Linked DNA regions of Homo sapiens: all the other regions are linked to region 3. Evidence: fine-mapped expression QTL. A gene starts in region 3. Each other region holds a variant in brackets. All regions are shown on one strand. Distances are between the middles of the regions.

Region 1 (2,616 bases), 81 kb after region 3:
CTATTAGTCTGCTGTCACACTGCTAATAAAGATATATCCGAGAGTGGGTAATTTATAAAGGAAAGAGGTTTAATGGATTCACAGTTCCACATGGCTGGGGAGGCCTCACAATCATGGCAGAAGGCACGGAGGAGCAAGTCACGTCTTATATGGATGGCAGAAGGCAAGGAGGAGCAAGTCACATCTTATATGGATGGCAGAAGGCAAAGAGAGAGAACTTGTGCAGAGGAACTCCTCTTTATAAAACCATCAGATCTCGTGAGACTTATTCATTATCACAAGACCAGCATGGGAAGGACCCGCCCCCACGATTCAATTACCTCCCACTGGGTCCCTCCCATGACACAGGGGAATTGTGGGAGCTACAGTTCAAGATGAAATTTGCATGGGGACACAGCTAAACCATATCATTCTACCCATGGCCCCTCCCAAATTTCATGTCCTCACATCTCAAAACCAATCATGCCTTCCTGACAGTCCCCCACAGTCTTAACTCATTTCAGCATTAACTCAAAAGTCCACAGTCCAAAGTCTCATCTGAAACAAGGCAAGTCCCTTCCGCCTATGAGCCTGTAAAATCAAAAACAAGTGAGTTACTTCCTGGATACAATGAGAGTACAGGCATTGGATAAATACACCCATTCCAAATGGGAGAAATTGGCCAAAACAAAGGGGCTAAAGGCCCCATGCAAGTCTAGAATCCAGCAGGGCAGTCAAATCTGAAAGCTCCAAAATGATCTCCTTTGACTCCATGTCTCACACCCAGGTGATGCTGATGCCAGGGGTAGGCTCCCATGGCCTTGGGCAGCTCCCCACCTGTGGCTTTGCAGGGTACAGCCTCCCTCCTGGATGCTTCCATGGACTAGCATTTAGTAGGGACTCTGTATGGGGGCTGCAAACCCACATTTCCCTTCTGCACTGCCCTAGCAGAGGTTCTCCATAAGAGCCCCACCCCTGCAGCAAACTTCTGCCTGGGCATCCAGGCGTTTCCATACATCCTCTGTAATCTAGGCGGAGGTTCCCAAACCTCAATTCTTGTTTTCCGTGCATCTGCAGGCTCAACAGCACATGGAAGCTGCCAAAGCTTGGGGCTTGAACCCTCTGAAGCAACAGCCTGAGCTGTACATACCTTGGCCCCCTTTAGCCATGGGTGGAGCAGCTTAGACACAGGGCACCAAGTCCCTAAGCTACATAGAGGAGGGGGGCCCTGGGGCCAGCCCACGAAACCATTTTTTCCTCCTAGGCCTCCAGGCCTGTGATGGGAGGGCCTGCCATGAAGACCTCTGACATGCCCTGGAGACATTTTCCCCATTGTTTTGGTGATTAACACTTGGCTCCTTGTTACTTATGCAAATTTCTGCCGCTGGCTTGAATTTTTCCTCAGAGAATGGGGTTTTCTTTCCTGTCTCATTGTCAGGCTGCAAATTTTCTGAATTTTTATGCTCTGTTTTCCTTTTAAAACTGAATGGTCTTAACAGCACCCAAGTCACCTCTTGATGCTTTGTTGCTTAGAAATTT[A/C]TTCTGCCAGGTACCCAAAATCATCTCCCTCAAGTTCAAAGTTTCACAAATCTCTAGGGCAGGGGCAAAATTCTGCCAGTCTCTTTGCTAAAACATAGCAAGAATCACCTTTACTTCAGTTCCCAACAAGTTCCTCATCTCCATCTGAGACCACCTCAGCCTGGATTTCATTGACCACATCATTATCAGCATTTTGGTCAAAGCCATTCAACAAGTCTCTAGGAAGTTCCAAACTTTCCCCCATTTTCCTGTCTTCTTCTGAGCCCTCCAAACTGTTCCAACCTCTGCCTGTTACCCAGTTCCAAAGTCACTTCCACATTTTTGGGTATCTTTACAGCCCAACTCTACCGGTACCAATTTACTGTATTAGTTTGTTCTCGTGCTGCTAATAAAGACATACACGAAACTGCGTAATTTATAAAGGAAAGAGGTTTAATGAACTCACAGTTCTCTGTGGCTGAGGAGGCCTCACAATCATGGTGGAAAGCAAAGAGGAACAAGTCATGTCTTACATGGTTGGCAGCAGGCAAAGAGAGAGAACTTGTGCAGGGAAACTCCTCTTTATAAAACCATCAGATCTTGTGAGACTTATTCACTATCATGAGACTATCATGGGAAGGACCCGCCCACATGATTCAGTTACCTCCCACTGGATCCCTCCCATGACACATGGGAATTGTAGGAGCTACAATTCAAGATGAGATTTGAGTAGGGACACAGCCAAACCATATCAAGATTATAGGAGGTTTTAACATTTTTTGGGTTTTTTAAAAATTTAAGTGATTTATGATTAACTCTAAGATTAAGCTATGTCAATCTGAGCCTTCATTTAGCCCTTAGGTTTCATGTGCCAATTTATGGATGAACTAGGTTGTACTTGCCTACAGTCTTAAAATGGCTATAATTTTGTTTCTTAATAATTTCTACTTTAGCTCCTGGGAGTTTTCTTTCTGGCTTTATGACTATGGTTGTTTCCTCTTACTCCAGCTGAGTACCAGGGACTGTGAGATCAATCATCTCTAGCCACTGACCTCTTCTGGGGCAGTCTATGAGTACAGCTGGTGACAGCCAGGATCTGGCATCCAGGTGGGAGGAGAG
Region 2 (2,616 bases), 68 kb after region 3:
AAAACAAGATGTTTTACATTGCTTTTAGGATTCCAGCAGTTATTATGCATTACAATTTCTACTAAAATTAGGCATGTAAAGCTATTTGTTTTATCTTTTTACATCTTTTTATACGATATTTTCTGTGTTTATAAGGCCTAATTTCTGCTTCTATGTAGTTGTTGATTTGATTTTTTTTGGTTGTGACAATAAGGTATAAAAACAAGGGGCCTCCTTTTAAGAAATGTTCATACTACATTGTTGCACAACTCTGTGGTCATAATAAAGCAGAAAAAATAATGACCTATTCAGAAATTTCAGAATGTCAGTTAAGTGCAAGAATAGTGGCACCTTTTCTTTGACCTGAACTGACTACTGACTTGTCCGGAGAATAGCTGAGCATTATCCATTGCATCCCATTAGCAGTGTGCCTGGGTTTTATTGTAGAAATCAGTCATCTCCTGGCTGTTGAACCACGATCCAGCAAAACGGCCCACAGCCACAGAACTGCTCAAGAGTGAGCTGCTGCCCCCACCCCAGATGGAGGAGTCAGAGCTGCATGAAGTGCTGCACCACACGCTGACCAACGTGGATGGGAAGGCCTACCGCACCATGATGGCCCAGATCTTCTCGCAGCGCATCTCCCCTGCCATCGATTACACCTATGACAGCGACATACTGAAGGTGGGCTTAAGCCACGCTGCACAAAGGGAGCTTCACCTTGTCCACAAAAGGATCAAGCCAGTTTCTCACAGATTCTTTTAATGCCTCTAACATAAGTTCTTATGTGAGGTATTGGAAGCCCCTAAAAGTACATGCAAAATGTGTGTATATGCATTCAGGGAAGAGGACCCATACTTTCAGTCACCTACTTGAAGGAGTCCTTGACCTTTCCTCCTCCCTACCCACCCAAGAGATTAAGAAGCAGTGCCTACAAAAATTAGCCGTGCGTGGTGGCATGCACCTGTAATCCCAGCTACCCGGGAGGCTGAGGCAGGAGAATCGCTTGAGCCTGGGAGGCAGGCGGAGGTTGCAGAGAGCCGAGATCGTGCCACTGCACTCCAGCCTGGGAGACAGAGCAAGACCCCAACTCAAAAAAAAAAAAAAAAAAGAAACAGTGCATTTAGAGACTGATCCCTAGCCCAAACGCCCAGAGCCATAAGCATCAACCAGCTCATATCTAGATGAAGTATAAAGTAGTTCCCAGTGCTGGTTGCACATCTACTTCATCTCAGAAACTCTCTGACAATGCAGATGCCCAGGTCCCGTAGCCCATCTAGTGGCTCAGAATCTCCAGGTGTGAGGCATTTCAGAATCTCATTAAAAGCTCCCAAGCAGTTTCTGAAGTGTAGCCAGGTTGCCAGTTTGGGAAGACTTTAACATTTAATTTCTTTTAAAAAGAAAAAAAATCTGAAGCATATTAGTGAAATGTTAAAATGTGTTAAAGTTGG[G/A]TGAGTAGGTAACAGGTATTTGTTATATTCTCTATTATGTTTCTGTTTGCTTAATATATATGATATAATTTAAAAAGATAGAGTAGTGGAGGAAGTCATAGTAAAATTTATGAAAGATCAGTATAGATTTTAGAGACCAAACACAATTTTTACTGGCTGGCAATATTATTATAGAAAGATATTTGCAGGATTATAGGTGACTTTTTTATAGATGTCTTTTTTCATATGTGTTGTTTCTAAATTTTCTATAGTGAAATGGTACTACTTTTATAATACAAAAACAAATGAAAAAGAAAGCTATTGGCAAAATATGTAAATGCCATGTAGCTTTCAACAGGCCTGCCATGAATCACCTTGGTATGTGGGAGGGGCCTGATGCTGTTAGGTGGTCATCGCGCCACAGTATCCCTGAGAGTCAGAGAGAATGTGTTTATTTGATTATCTCCCTCTGAAAGGCAAATATCAATGTGGCCAAGAATTTGGACTTTGAACCCAGGCATCCTTCCCATTGGTTGAAAGGTTAGCTCTTGCTTTCCAAAGCAGGCCATGAAAGATATGTGTCCTCTTCCCTGATGTGTTCAAAGAGGGATGGACTTGTCAAGACTTGTTTTTTGAACCTGGAAATAAGCAGTGTAGTGCCTACTGCAAGCCACAGATTAATATTTTAAAGGATCCCTTTGATAAGGCTTCAATGATGATGTTTTAATCGGTCCTGTTTTAGGGCAACTTCTCAATCCGTACAGCCAAGATGCAGCAGCATGTGTGTGAAACCATCATCCGCATCTTTAAAAGACATGGTATGTACGCCCTTTTTAAAAATGATATTTCTTCTCATAAGACTTTTTTCATCATTAGAAAGTACTGTTAGTGTTCGGGCATATCATATTTTACTTTCAAATTCAGTTATAAATAATTGACATCATATGGAATTTAAGCTTATTTTTGAAACTGATTTGAATATTACAGCCTTACTATTAATACTAAAATGCAATTGGTTTGTGGAGTCAGAAATATGACCAAACTGTCAAACTTAACTCTAGATGAGCTCTCTATTTATAAATTTAGAGAACTCAAGAAAAATTGATATGACTTCAATGGTCCCAGTAGCAATTACTTAACTGTCAGGTTTGTGTTAATTTTAGGTTGCCTTCTAAGGAGAATGTGAACCTGATGATGAGCTATTTTT
Region 3 (2,616 bases):
GCCATTTACCTAGTCAGAGATCACTGGAGAAGGAACGGGTCTCCAGCAGAGGGAAGATGATGATTTAAATTGGCCTTGGGTCAAGCTAGTGCATTTGTGTTATCTGGCCAGAAATGAGTGGATAGATGGCAGCAAGGAATTTACACAATCATTATTTAGTGAACAGTGGAGGAGTAAGCAAGGTAGACAGAAGAAACGTCACTTAAACCTAACTTGGGTTAGTACAATAGGATTATTCGAAATGGACATGCAGCATTAGTAAGTTACTGAAGATGAAGTGCAATAACAATGTCTGGGTAGACAGGTTATTATTTTATAAACTTGAAAAACGACGACTTGAGGCAGGATATAACACAAAGACTCCCTAAATTCACACTGAGTGAACTGGGAAGGGAACATGATTCTCTTCATGGGAAGGTAGCTCATAAAGATGCCTGAGTGGAAAGACAGTTTTCAATTGAATTTGCAAGGTGGTAGTGGAGATCCCCAAAGCTGGGGAATGTAGAGACAGAGAACATAATGAGGGTGTTGAATCTGTGGCTCAGAGAATAAGTTTGGGGGTACTAAAGTGGGAGGAAGGAGGGTGGGGGGGGTCACAATTTTTACTCCCGGTAGTCTTGTTCTGGGAAGGTACAAGGTGAAATTAGAAGTGACCTCAGAACCCATCGACGTCTGCCCTTTAAGAGTTTCCCGGCCGGGCGCGGTGGCTCATGCCTGTAATCCCAGCACTTTGGAAGGCCGAGGCGGGCGGATCACAAGGTCAGGAGATCGAGAACATCTTGGCCAACATGGTGAAACACCATCTCTACTAAAAATAGAAAAATTAGCCGGGCGTGGTGGTGCGCGCCTGTAGTCCCAGCTACTCTGGAGGCTGACGCAGGAGAATCGCGTGAACCCGGCAGGCGGAAGTTGCAGTGAGCCGAGATCGCGCCACTGCACTCCAGCCTGGGGAACAAGAGCCGAAACTCTGCCAAAAAAAAGAAAAAAGAGTTTCCCGCACTAGCCATGCCAGGGTGGAGAAGTTCCAGCAAGCACTTCTGTTAAAGATACTTGTTTCGTGAAAACTATACAATGTGGCGTTTTCATTCCTATCTGTGATTCATTTCTTAAGTTCGTGGAGTTCCTTTGCTCCCCTTCCCCCAGCAGGATGTGGGCAAAGCTGTCCCCCTGCCTTCTTCCTTCGCCTGGGCTTCTGGAGCCTCCGGAGCTAGCTCCCGGCGCGGAGCTCCGCCTACGGCCCGTCCCCGGCGCGGAACCCCGCCCACGAGCCCGTTTCCAGCGTGGAACACCGCCCATAGCCCGTCCCCAGCGCGGAGCCCCGCCCCGCAGGCTGCCGGGGGCCCACCGCCGCCCAGGCAAGGCCGCCCTGCCTTGGGCGCAGCGCTGCCATGGCTGGGGGCCGTGGGGCCCCCGGGCGCGGCCGGGACGAGCCTCCGGAGAGCTACCCGCAACGACAGGACCACGAGCTACAGGCCCTGGAGGCCATTTACGGCGCGGACTTCCAAGACCTGCGGCCGGACGCTTGCGGACCGGTAGGAACGTGGCTTGTCAGGCCCGGGCTGGCGTGCCCTGGCCTCCCCGGGCCCTGGGCCAAAGCCCGGACACTTCCAGATTGGGCCGCCGCTTTAGGATCCTGCAGTCTTTTCATCCCTTAGGTTCCACCCATGCTCACTTTAGTCCTTGCACCTGCAGCTGGTCTGCAGAATCCCACCTAGGCCGAATTCTTCTACAGTCCTTTCCCCATGATTTCCCCAGAGGAATCCCCCTGGATTCCTCCCTCTTACCTGGCACTGCTTCTTATTCCTGCCTACATCCCATAACATAACTGCCTCCTTCCAACCTTGTCCTTTTTCCCCTCTGAAAGCCCTTGCGGATGATACCACAGCAATTCATACGCGCCCCTTGCTACTTTGTTCTGAGAACGCTTTTTGGGCTCTCGCACAGGCCTTACGTCCTCAATCAGAATTCTCAAGTCTCATCCATGCATTCAAATCTGCACGCCACATAATTCCCTCTGTACTCCCCAGGCATCCTCACTGTGTTTTCCGGTATGGAGGAACTTTCCATACCTCTGCACCTTCCTCTAAGACATTTAGCTCAGAATAAAGCACACATTCATCTTAGCTGTAGTAGAGAGAGGGTTCTAGACTGAGTCTAGAGAAGGAGTGTCCAATCTTTTGGCTTCCCTGGGCCACACACAAAATACACTAACACTAAGGATAGCTGATGACCTAAAAGAAAAAAAAAATTCGCAAAAAAACCTCAATGTTTTAAGAAAGTTTACGAATGCGTGTTGGGCCACATTCAAAGCGGCCCATGGGCCTCGGGTTAGACCAGCTTGCTCTAGCTCTAGACCTTTTAAAATGGCATTTTGTTTAAAATAATATTTTGCCTTTTTGTCTGGAAATTAAGGCACGTTATAAAGTATTTATACTGACAGTTTTTTCCCCATCCTTGAAGAGTTGATCTACCAAACTATTTCTGAATATTATCATATTATCATTTAAAACATAGTTCTAACTTCATCTGCTTTTTTTTTTTTTCTTTTTGAGACAGGGTCTTGCTCTGTCTCCCAAGCTGGAGTGCAGAGGCATGACCACGGCTCACTGCAGCTTA
Region 4 (2,594 bases), 73 kb after region 3:
CTCTGTCTCTCAGGCTGGAGGGCAGTGGCGTGATTTCAGCTCACTGCAAGCTCCGCCTCCCGGGTTCACGCCATTCTCCTGCCTCACCCTCCCGAGTAGCTGGGACTGTAGGTGCCCGCTACCATGCCCGGCTAATTTTTTGTATTTTTAGTAGAGACAGTGTTTCACTGTATTAGCAAGGATGGTCTTGATCTCCTGACCTCGTGATCCGCCCACCTGGGCCTCCCAGAGTGCTGGGATTACAGGCGTGAGCCACCGCACCCGGCCTGCATACACTTGATATATGTGTAGATATATATATTTGGCCCTCTACATCCTTGGGTGGTTTCTGTATCCATGGATCCAACCGAGGATGGAAGATACTCAGAAAAAAAAAAAAAATTCACAAAGCTCCAAAAAGCAAAACTTGAACTTGTCACATTCACGTGTCTGAATGACCGTGCACATCAGGTTGTTTGTATCACCAAAGAGTAAGGTGTCAAAGAATACACTCATTTTGACCATACTTTTTGGAGGGGGGAGTGGAATCTTTTTTTAAATGTATGTCATATGGCTTATTGTGAAACAGGTTTTGTGTTTATAGTCTAAGAAGAAATTCCTTCCACATTCCTCACTTCTGTTTTTCTTTTATAGTGAGTAAAGTGATGTGGGATTATTCTGAGGTAGAGGTAAATAAACAGCAAATCAGATGAGACATTTGCGTTTTGTTGAAAAAAAAAGAATAGAAGTACAAATATTTACATAGCTATACTTAAAGCTGGCTTCTTATTCTCTAAATATTAGGAGACTAAAGTGCAGATTTTTAAATATCAGCTCCCATTCTATAAGCTGATATTGAAATGCAAAAAATTAAAAAGTGAATGTATGTTGAGAATTTGGCCCATCAGTGGTAATGATACCATGTTGGATCTGTTGGGGCAATCTAACAATGGTTTTACTAGTTGTGGTTACTATTTGAAGGTGTTTATTAAGAATTTATTCTAAGAGATTGATAGGAAAATCAGGAAATTCACCATAAGAGATAATACCCATTTTGACTGCATTACTATAAAAGTGACATTTTTTTTAAATTCATAAATAAATAACTTGCACTAATTTTAGTTGGACATAATAAAAGCTCCACAGAGAATATTTAACTAAAAGTGAATTTTAAAAAAAACCTAAGAAATGCCACAGTGAATAAGGTTGATGGTATGTCTAGCAGCGGAGTCCACCACTGACCAAAACACTGAAGAACATTTCAGGGAGTGTGAGTGGTGAGCAGTGCATAACTTAGTGAATACACTAAAAGCCACTGAAGTACATACTTTAAAGGGGTGAACTTTATGGGACAGGAGTTATGTTTCAATAAAGCCGCTATTAACAAAAGGCACATTTTGACATTGACCTTTCATA[TTTTG/T]TTTATTTTTCAGATCCCTTTTGCAAGATATGTGGCAAGAAATAATATATTGAATTTAAAACGGTAAGAAACAATAGGAGATTCCATTTGGTAGACATAGGAAAATAGTTGAATAATTTGTCAACCAGGAAAGAATATTTTATTTCCTGTGATCCTTACACAGTTAAGAATTCTGGGTTCAGAATATTGAGCTTAGAATATGAACCAGAAGCCCAGCCACAGTACCCCTTCCTGTAAGGTAACTAGGACTGTTAGAAGGAATGTAGCAGGTAGGTACCGTCATGTTCCCACAGTCTATTCTGTACCTTCTAAATGTCCCCAAGCAACATTACTAATTATTTTCACAAACGGTTGCTTGATAAAAACATCTGGCTGTTCATGATCACAGATGGCCCCTTTTAAAACTTAATTGGTGGGACAAATGGCCAGTGGTCTCTATGTGAAAACTGCCTACACAGGTAACCGAACAAAAGCTGCTTGTAGAGAAGTGGAGTAAACCCAGCAGGAACGCTGAGCGCTGAGGACCTCCAGGCACTTAGCCCTGGAAAAAGGCTTTCTGTACATTCAAATACCACAGGGGTCCAACACTGAGATCTTCATAATTTGGAGCAGTATTGTTGTCAATGAGGCACCCTACTTTAAAGCTCCTTTCTTCAACTGAAAGCAAAGCTCTTTACATGCTTTTATTCTAGCTACAAGTGAATAATTAATAATCGTAGTCCTATGGTGTGGGTATCCCTGTGTAGAAAGCAATCACTAAGGTAAAATTTTTTGGTGTAATTTCATCTCTATTTCAGACATTTAAAAAACCTTAAGCCCCATAGCTTAATAGTGGCAAAACTGGGAATTGGAACCTAGATCACAAGGCAAGGCTGTTCCAGGTCAAATTTGTCTTTCAGTCCTCTTGATCATACCACCGATTAATTTTTTTTCATATTTGTTTCTTATATCTTGTTCAACAATTTCTTATACATATTTCTTTCTAGTAAGCAATGACCTTAGAAATCTGGGTTTCTCTCTCCAGATACTGCATAGAACGTGTGTTCAGGCCGCGCAAGTTAGATCGATTTCATCCCAAAGAACTTCTGGAGTGTGCATTTGATATTGTCACTTCTACCACCAACAGCTTTCTGCCCACTGCTGAAATTATCTACACTATCTATGAAATCATCCAAGAGTTTCCAGCACTTCAGGT

What was found. PIP is the estimated chance that this variant, and not a neighbour inherited with it, causes the effect. A credible set is the group of variants that fine-mapping cannot tell apart.
Region 1: its variant is the best candidate, but not a certain one, in a credible set for the expression of EIF2AK4 in thyroid (GTEx, PIP 0.51).
Region 2: its variant is the best candidate, but not a certain one, in a credible set for the expression of EIF2AK4 in subcutaneous fat (GTEx, PIP 0.61).
Region 4: its variant is the best candidate, but not a certain one, in a credible set for the expression of EIF2AK4 in nasal epithelium (TOPMed, PIP 0.51).

Annotation. Positions count from the first base shown.
Region 1 is chr15:40,013,376-40,015,991 of GRCh38, forward strand. The region is part of intron 27 of EIF2AK4 (eukaryotic translation initiation factor 2 alpha kinase 4); the gene reads left to right. Among named protein-coding and RNA genes, the nearest start is that of SRP14, 24 kb to the right of the region's middle. The variant A/C (reference allele first, on the strand shown) is at 1,519.
Region 2 is chr15:40,000,562-40,003,177 of GRCh38, forward strand. EIF2AK4 (eukaryotic translation initiation factor 2 alpha kinase 4) reads left to right here. Exons shown (of 39, transcript NM_001013703.4): 21 at 427-663; 22 at 2,152-2,227. Among named protein-coding and RNA genes, the nearest start is that of SRP14, 37 kb to the right of the region's middle. RefSeq lists an enhancer at 1,727-2,021. The variant G/A (reference allele first, on the strand shown) is at 1,431.
Region 3 is chr15:39,932,808-39,935,423 of GRCh38, forward strand. EIF2AK4 (eukaryotic translation initiation factor 2 alpha kinase 4) reads left to right here and starts at 1,308. Exons shown (of 39, transcript NM_001013703.4): 1 at 1,308-1,532. The coding sequence starts at 1,389. RefSeq lists an enhancer at 1,021-1,160 and a silencer at 1,181-1,590.
Region 4 is chr15:40,005,604-40,008,197 of GRCh38, forward strand. It overlaps EIF2AK4 (eukaryotic translation initiation factor 2 alpha kinase 4), which reads left to right. Exons shown (of 39, transcript NM_001013703.4): 24 at 1,413-1,462; 25 at 2,424-2,592. Among named protein-coding and RNA genes, the nearest start is that of SRP14, 32 kb to the right of the region's middle. The variant TTTTG/T (reference allele first, on the strand shown) is at 1,396.